Linked DNA regions of Homo sapiens: region 2 is reported to be linked to region 1. Evidence: microRNA targets listed by miRTarBase, many of them from high-throughput screens and not tested one by one. Region 1 holds a microRNA gene; the other region holds the end of a gene's coding sequence.

Evidence for each region. The annotated mature microRNA hsa-miR-1224-3p reads CCCCACCUCCUCUCUCCUCAG and lies in region 1 at 1,134-1,154, opposite strand. An mRNA with a match to its seed (bases 2 to 7 or 8) in the 3' UTR can be bound and repressed. Matches are read on the target gene's strand: a 7mer-m8 pairs with bases 2 to 8, a 7mer-A1 pairs with bases 2 to 7 and ends in A, and an 8mer does both.
Region 2: miRTarBase lists SLC4A1 as a target of hsa-miR-1224-3p. Seed matches in the 3' UTR shown: 7mer-m8 at 3,106-3,112 and 7mer-A1 at 2,461-2,467.

Annotation. Positions count from the first base shown.
Region 1 is chr3:184,238,095-184,242,622 of GRCh38, reverse strand. MIR1224 (microRNA 1224) reads right to left here and starts at 1,218; the gene lies at 1,134-1,218. VWA5B2 (von Willebrand factor A domain containing 5B2) reads right to left here. Exons shown (of 20, transcript NM_001390846.1): 13 at 4,149-4,320; 14 at 3,750-4,060; 15 at 3,040-3,229; 16 at 2,587-2,934; 17 at 1,695-1,832; 18 at 1,516-1,599; 19 at 1,219-1,436; 20 at 294-1,133. The coding sequence ends at 585. ALG3 (ALG3 alpha-1,3- mannosyltransferase) reads left to right here. Exons shown (of 9, transcript NM_005787.6): 9 at 1-322. The coding sequence ends at 109. RefSeq lists a silencer at 408-702.
Region 2 is chr17:44,247,010-44,251,009 of GRCh38, forward strand. It overlaps SLC4A1 (solute carrier family 4 member 1 (Diego blood group)), which reads right to left. Exons shown (of 20, transcript NM_000342.4): 20 at 1,381-3,529. The coding sequence ends at 3,449. Among named protein-coding and RNA genes, the nearest start is that of SLC4A1, 19 kb to the right of the region's middle.

The DNA.
Region 1 (4,528 bases):
CTGCAGCTCTGCTGCCCTGCACATATGCCATGCCGTCATCCTGCTGCAGCTCTGGCTGGGCCCGCAGCCTTTCCCCAAGAGCACCCAACACAGCAAGAAAGCCCACTGAAGTCCACCCCTTTCCCTCAGGACCTGAGTCTACCCTCAGGACCTGGGGTTGGTTGGACTCTGCCCTTCCAAATAAACCTTGCTAAGTCCAACTCTGTGCAACCTACATGGAGGTGGGGGCAGCCGATGCCTGGTCCAGGCTGTGAGGGACACGTATGGAGCAGATAAAGAATTCACTCAAGCAGTCCTAAGAGGCACTTTATTGCATAGGATTTGGGGACTGTGGCTCTCTACCCTTCCACTGTGTTGCAGGGAGCTCAGAGGATGGAGGGGAGTGTGAGTGGGGTGGGAGGAGAGGGAGAGAGCACAGGCAGGCACTTTTTGTGGGGGCAAGAGGGCTCTAGGGAGGGAGTAAGAAGCAGTGGGGGACAGGCTGGCACCAGCCTACACTTTCCCAGCACCAAGAGGCCAGCCCTGGGCGGCAGTGACTTGAGTGTGTTGGGTGGGGCGCCAGCCCAAGCAGCAGGGGGCAGCCTTCACACGTTCGCTGGGCTGTAGCACAGCAGGTGTAGCTGCAGGTTTTGGTCCCAGTGGCGCAGTAGCAGGAAGAGCCCTCGGGCTGCGGCCTTGAGGGCGGCCAGGTCAAGGCCGTCAGGCAAGTGCTGGGCCCGCAGCCAGCAATCAGCCTTGGCCGCTGTCAGTTCCCACTCGTCGAAGGCAGCGGCGCATCGGTGCTCCAGCCAGGCGAGTGCTACGGCAGTGGCCCAGGTCCGGCCCCGCAGGTCGGTGCCGCCCAGCCCTTCCGCCCCCTCGGAGGCCTCGGTGTCTGAGCCCCGCCCACTGTCCACCTGGCCTGGCCCCTCAGAGCCCGAGCTGGGGGACGGGCTGCAGGAGGCCGTGGCACTGTCACCCTGGCCAACACCAGGGCCCAGAAGTGCCCAGGGCAATGAGGCCGAGGTGGGGCTGAGGCTGGCGCGGTGCACGGCAAAGGGCGAGGCACGGCAGAGGCGCTCCTGCGAGATGCGCACAGCGGCGCAGAAGGGCGCGTCCAGGCGGAAGGAGCCTGGTGCCTCCTGCAGCCGCACCTGAGGAGAGAGGAGGTGGGGGGAGAAGCGAGCTGAAACAGCGCCCGGCCCCGGCGGCACCACCCTCCACCTCCCGAGTCCTCACCAAGGGCAGGTAGTCATGGTCGCTGCCTTCACTGTTGTTGGCCTGGCCCGGGTCAGGGCTACAGAGTTTGTGACGGCGGCCCATGCTGAGCCGACAGGGAGGACGGGGAGGTGGGCGGCGAGGACCTTCCGTGGGAGTGGCAGGGTCCCCCAAAGCACGCTTGGAGTTGCCATTTTGGTCCGAGTCCCAGGCGCCTGCTGGAGAGCCTCTCTGAAGTCCTGCAGTGGGGATCATCAGTGCCAGGGGGCGGTCTCTAAGCCCAAGTGCCCCTACCCTTTCCCTACCTTTGGGTGTTACCTTTAGAGTAGACAACAGTGGGCAGAGGAGCTGCATCTAGATGGCTGTGAGAGGCAGGAGGGGTTCCTGGGGGCTCAGCGGGCTCTGCAGGGGCACATGGGACAGGAGTCAGGTTTGTCCAGGAGAGTGGCCAGTGAGGTGAGAGCTGCACCTGAGAGGTCACCAGAAGAGGCCCCTACCTGAGCTGCACACCTGCAGGGCCCCAGGCAGGACCTCCCTAGTAGTAGCATCCACAGCTACAGGGCAAGTGAAGCAGGAGGGGGCAGAGCTGACCTTACTTGTCTGAAGGGCTCGAAGCCAGCACCTCCGGGCATGGCCTGTGGAACCAAGGAGCAGTCTGTGGAGCCCCCACCACCCACCCTCTACAGAGGGCTCATAGAAAAAATTGCAGTGTTCTCCCCAGCTTCTCCCTCTATCGACTTTAACAGAGTAGATTGCCTTGCTAGGCCCAGAACCAGCTCAGACTCCCCAACTTTGACAAGAAGTGATCAGGCTGAATCTTCAACCCATAGCAGAGCAAGAGCCCCCTGGCTGCCCAGAAATTCAGCACTCTGGACAACACCCAGAGGAAGCATTAGCTGGCACATTTTCCTCCACCTGCTTCTGCACTAATAAAACTTGGAAATGTTCTCTCTCTTCATGATCCAATGTGGTAGCCACTAGTCACATTTGACTATTGAGTACTTCAGCTGTGGTTAGTGCAACTGAGGAAATGAACTTTAAGTATTTTCCTAAATGACAAAGATTTGTTTTTACGTTGTGGGTGCTGTGAATCATGACAGGATCACGTTGCCCTCTGTGCTGGCTGCTAGGAAGCTTGTCAGTTCTGGATCTGATCCTTGCAAGAGTATATAACCTCACAGCATGCACCTTTAATATAACCTCATTCTCAGTTTCCTTTTATTTTTACTTTTTCCCATTGTCCCGCTTAATTTTTTATCTTGTCTGTGATGAGCCTCAAATCCTTTGTGATCAAAGCGAGGTATAGAGAGTGATCAAACACACAGACCTCTACCTTTGCTGTTTTTAGCCCATGCCTTTGGGTCCTGACTGGACCCATGAGCAACTCACCCCGGTCAGCTGTGGTCTCTGCCCCTCCTCGGAGGGCCAGCTGCTCATTGTCCCGGACCACAGAGGCTGCTGTCAGCCGATGGAGTGCTTGGTCCCAAGCAGCTTCTCTTACAGGAGGTGAGGGAGGCTGTGAGCCATCTCCAGGTCCCCACAGTGTCTCCAGCCCAACACCCACCTCCCAGCACATGGGCTGCTCCCCACACAGGCCCCGGATCACCACATGGCAGCGTGGAGCCTGGGGAGGCACTGCTGGAGGGGCCAACTCCCCACTAGGAGGCACAGCCGTGAATAAGAAGGGTGGTTCCATCAGCATGTCCCAGTCCATAGGGGCTGGGGAGAGCAGGTTTCCTGGGGAGGCAAGACAGCAGGGGCATGGGCAGAGTGGTCCTCTGGGCTTTACCTCCCCAAGGCCTCTTTGGTGTCAGGGAAACCAGCTCCCCATCCAACACTTACCTGAGTCATCCAGGCCTTGTCCCAACTGTTGGCCTGGCTCAGGACTTGGGCCATCTAGTATTGCACCCAAAGAGGGTTTCCGGGGTCGGCCGGGGACTTGGTTTGCCCGGCCTGGAGGGGATGAGAGGCTTCGGCCAGCCAGAGCCGCTCTGTGCTGACGGCCCAGCACCTCAGTACTCAAGGCCCCCACCTGCATGTGAGATATGGGGGCCACTGGTCAAGGAATGCAGAACCCTTGACCATCATACATGGGTGCACAGCTGGCCCATGCCCCTTTTCTGAAACCCTGGGTGGCCGCTCACCAGCTTGAGGAGGAAGGCCAAGTTCCTTATGGCCTACAGTGACCTCTGGCCTTGGCCCCTTCCCAGCATCATCCCACTCCACTCCCTATTTCCCACTTGTGGTTGTTGCTTGTCTCTGTATTTTCGTTTATGTCTTCTCCCTCTCTGCATGGCTAACTCGTGCTTATTCTTCCAGATATGGCTCTGACTTTCCTGACTCTCTCAGGCAGAATTAGTCACCCTGACTTTAAGCCCCCTTAATACATGTCCTTGTGCTCATCACTGGTTGTTACATGGTATCGTTGGGGATTTACCCACCTTTCTCTCTAGCTAGACTTAATAGTAAACTCTACATAATATCTGGTGCACAGCAGGTGGTAAATAAATATTTGCTGGATACAAGGCGAATGAATGTGGGTTGGATCTCACCTTGAATGGAGCTGGTGTGGGTGCAGGCAGGGGACAGGAGCGGGAGCCTGCAGGTTCTCCCCAGGCCAGACTGCGGCAGCCCTGCTGAGAAGGGGGCTCCAAGGGAGCACTACCTTCGGGGGAGCCAGGGCCCTGTGAGCCTGGGGACTCACTGCTGCCTGTGGAGCCTGGGCCTGGCTCGGGGCTGGCAGAGCAGTGGGTGAGCACATACTGCTCCCGAATGTACGAGGACTGAAAGATGCGGCGCCATATGGCTGTGTCAGAGGGGTTGGGTCCAGGATCCGTGACTGGGTCTGTCAGAGCATCAGTACCTGCTGGGAGGCAGTAGAATGGGCCCTAGCCCTGACCCCTCCCAGCGCCCACTCCAATACAGCCACACACATACACCTGGGCACTCACTCTGCTCCGAGTCCCTGGCAGCCCATGGGCTGGACAGTTCTGCTGAGACAGTGCCTGTTCCCAGTGGCTCTGAGGTGCCAGTGGGCTCAGTGCCAGGGCTGGCAGCAGACGGGGCCTCTTCTGGGGATGGAAACACGGACCCACCCGAGCTCTGCCAGCCAGGCTCTTGGCCCTAGAGAGAATATTATTGGGAAAAAAATTAACTGCAGTTATGTGCTACCTCTTTCCAAACATTTTTAGATGGCTCACAGCAAGAGGCAACAAAGCTAATAAACCAGAAACAAAAGACCAGTACTAAAGAAGGAGGAAGCAGACATGTTCACTGTAAGGGTTAATAGAGCTGCTGGGAAGCTGAGCTTTAAGTTTGGCCCTGAGCTCCC
Region 2 (4,000 bases), not on the chromosome of region 1:
AGTCTGCACACCCTCGCTCTGCTCCCTGGCTCTCTGTTCTTAAGGCCCAGCTTCCCGTGCTGGACATCACCTGGGGATCTGGTTAAAATGCAGATTCTTATTTCTCAACTCTGGGGCAGGGCCTGAGCTCCTAGATTACTGGCAAGCTCCCTAGAAATGGCACTGCTGCTGGTCCCAGAGCCCCACTGTGTAGCAATGCCCTAGGGATTCTGGCCAGGGTCCCAGCCTCCCCTGCTGCCCAAGCTCCAGGTAGTGTTTCAGAATTGCAATTAAAAACATGGAGAGGGGCTTAACCCTTGGCAGGGGCAGGAAGTGGTCCCCCAAATTGAGGCAGCATTTATTCCCCTAAGTCCAGATATGATGAGCTGGAAAAGGATGGAAAGGATCCTTTTCCAGGCGATGGAAAGGATCTACCAGGAAGAATTAGCCCAGTAGAAAACGGAGACCCAGAGAGGGGACTGGCTTTTCCCAGGTTGCACAGCCAGCCTGTGGAAGAGGCCTGGGGATGCCGGTGGCCTGAGCTCTCTTCAGGCTTGTCTCATAGCCTGACTTCTGGGTACATGGACGTGGGGAATGGAGGGTCTGGCAAGCCCTGGGGACAGGGCCAGGGCTGTGGGGATCTGCAGCTGCTGTGTGTGGGAGGTGGACGCTGGGACGGCTCTCCCCTGGCAGAGTTAGCTCTCTGACCCTTTGGCAGCTGCCCTGGCTAGCCTGGGAGGGGTCAGCTGGGGATAGGCAGTAAATATAGATCTAGGGCAGGAAGCCAGGCGGCCCAGCCCTGCACTGACCTCTCGTTGGAAGTCTAGGGAGGGCAGATGTCCAGTCCTGGAACCCTCCTCTCCCGGGGTGGGGGACACCTAGCCCAGCAACACCCTAGAATTGCTGGAAGTGGTTGGGGGTAGGGGACAGAGCCTCCAAAGGGGACCAGGATGAGGGTAAGCAGAAAGCTGGCCAGGAGACGCTGTGCCTGTGTGGCCATGTGCCCTCTCTGGGCCTCTGTTTTCTTCTCTGGTCATCTCTGTCAAAGGTGCTGTCCAGCTTCCCGGTAAGGGGTCCACTGATCTAAAGGGAATTGGGGGCTCACAAGTATAAGGAGCAGGGGGCAAGGTCCCCTTACAGTCCCTCCTCCCACCCCCACAGGTCTTGCTTATTCAGGAGAGGAAGGAGTCTCAGAGCATAATCTCATCTCTTGCTCCCTACCCACTCTCTGGGTGCTGGCCTCCCACCCTAGGGCTCAGGGTCACACCTCAGCCTGGCTCCCCTTGCTGCATAGATGCAGCCCTGTGCCAGGCCCGTGCCACACACACCATGCCCACCTAGTTCAGCCAAGACCCCCGGGACCCCCGACTCTGGGAACGGGAATTCAGGCAAGGCAGCCACTCCAACACAGATACGTTTATTGGCAAAACCTATTCCCAGGCATCAAGGGGAAGGGTGCTAGCAGAGTGAATAATTTTTGTTTTTCACTTTCCTTGGCCATGTTCAAGGAGCAAGGGGAGGGGGAGACAGGGACATCCCAGTCAAGATAAGGAGGATCCCAGCAGCTCCCCTCCGAGGTTGGGCTCTTCACCAACCAAGGCCTTTTCTTGCACTGTCTCCTTTAATCCTTATAACAACACTGCAAGGTAGGTACCATTATCATCCCCATTTTACAGACGAGGAAACTGAACTGTAGCATGGGCGAAGTGGTGAAAGGTGGGTGTCAGCTTTCAGGGACAGGAGAGCCTCCCATGGACTGAGCTAGCCTGGGAGGTACAAATAATGTTACTCTATGTTGGGCTGGAACCCCACCACACACACATGTTGAGTCTGTGGCCCCCAAGGCTGATGTTTCCTTCCGTTTTTTTTTTTTTTTTTTTTTTTTTTTTGAGACAGGGTCTCGCTCTGTTGCCCAGGCTGGAGTGCAGTGGTGCAATCTTGGCTCACTGCAACCTCCACCTCCTGGGTTCAGGTGATTCTCTTGCCTCAGCCTTCTAAGTAGCTGGGATTACAGGTGCCTGCCACGAGACACCCAGCTAATTTTTGTATTTTTAGTAGTAACGGGGTTTCACCATGTTGGCCAGGCTGGTCTCAAACTCCTGACCTCAAATGATCCGCCCAACTTGGCCTCCCAAAGTGCTGGGATTACAAACGTGAGCCACTGCGCCCAGCCACCTCCTCTCTTTTCTACCACTTCCTGATTCTGTTTCCTCCATCTCTCACCACTTTCACGTCTTTCAACTCTTTTTATCTTTTTGTTTTATAAAAAAATAAATTTGCCCATGTTCTTGGAGAGCCTGCTGTCTCCTACCCCAATTGGTCAGATCTGGGTTCTCCCCAAGATTCAGTTTAGATGGAGTTGAGGATAATGGCTCTCAAATGAGGGGCCTGAAGTTGTGTGTGAAGCCAAACTATGTTGAAAACTCTTAGAAAATACGCAATTAATAAATTACAAACCCCCTCACTCTCCCGCCCCTACCTTCCCACCCTCCCCCACTCCCTATCCAAATGTAGAATCAACTGTACCTTGCCCCCCACCCCCACCCCAGGGCAGGGCTTGTCTCAGTCCCCTCGGAGTCCACTGATTCCGGGGCCCTCAGTAAATGTTTGTGGAATGAATGAATGAGTGAACTAATGAGTGTTTGGAGGGAGGAACCAAACACTTAGGAGGCCTGAGTCCCAGGCCCAATCCCTGGATCATCCTTGCCTGTACCTTGTCCTCACCAGGACGCCTCTCTCTGGGCCCAGAGAAGAGGGTCTCAAGGTAGGGGCTGGGAGCAGAGTGGGGAAGGGAGGAGTCACAGGGGAAGGGAAAGTGGACGCATGACTGACAGAGGACAGAGCTCGGACCTTGAAATCAGAAGGCCTGGTTCAAATCCCAGCTGCACGGCTCAGTTCAAATCCCAGCTATGTGACCTTGGGTACGTTCAAAGACAAATGATGACTGCTATAGAACAGTCCCTGTGGAGTTTACAAAGCCCTATTTTACATGTATCTTTGGTCCTCAGTAACCATCCTGTAATGTGGGTATTATCATCAATATACCCATTTTACAGAAGAGGAAATATAGGCTGGAAAGGTCAAGGGACTTGCCCAAGGTCACACAGCAAGCACCCCACCCGCTCACCCACCTCCTGCCTTTGCTTCTACCCCTGCCTGTGCTGGGAAGAGGGAGGGCTCAGATCTAAGTCTTCCAGCACGGGATCCCCAGTGAAAGTGTGGCAACAGGAGGGACTGTGCAACAAACCCCCTAATGTGGGCCCCATCGGCCATCCCCAGCCAGAAAAGCCAGGCTACCCTTTGTGGAAGGTCTCCTGGACACGCCTTCCTTCCCCACCCACAGCCCTGGGGCCTCAGCTGCTGCTCCAGGAGGATCCTGGAGTCCATGAGGTGCCCATGAACTTCTGCTTTTCCTTGGAAGGTGGGGATGTGGAATGGTGGGGGAGGGTCTAGGGCCTGGGCCCGCCCCTCACACAGGCATGGCCACTTCGTCGTATTCATCCCGACCTTCCTCCTCATCAAAGGTTGCCTTGGCATCATCAGCATCCAGCTGGAGGGGAGGGACAGGAGAGAGACAGGGTGAGAGACCCTGGGGCCAGAAGAGCCCTCCCCGGGCACGAAAGGCACCTCTGGAGTTAGGAGAGGGTCTGGCTGTCTTGAACCTTGGACCAGTCCTGTTTTATCTCCCCAGCAGCTAGGACTGGCCTAAATGAGTCGTTGTCAAAGTGAGAGGCAACCCCGGGGATGTGGACCCTGGCAGGGGAGGGCCTGCAGAGGGTGAGCAGGGGACCTTTTCACCAAGGCGGCCCCACAGTGACCTGAGTCACCCTGTGGAAGAATCCTATTAGAGGAGTGACTCTGTCCCAAATGACTCGGAAGACGGCAGGACTTGCTGCTTAGGGGTCCAGCTCACTCACAGCACACCCTGTCTGCCTCTTGACGCTCTCCCCAGTCGTGCCATCATTTCCCCCTTTACAGGTGAGCAAAATGAAGACACAGAGAAACAAGGCCCCGTGCTCCA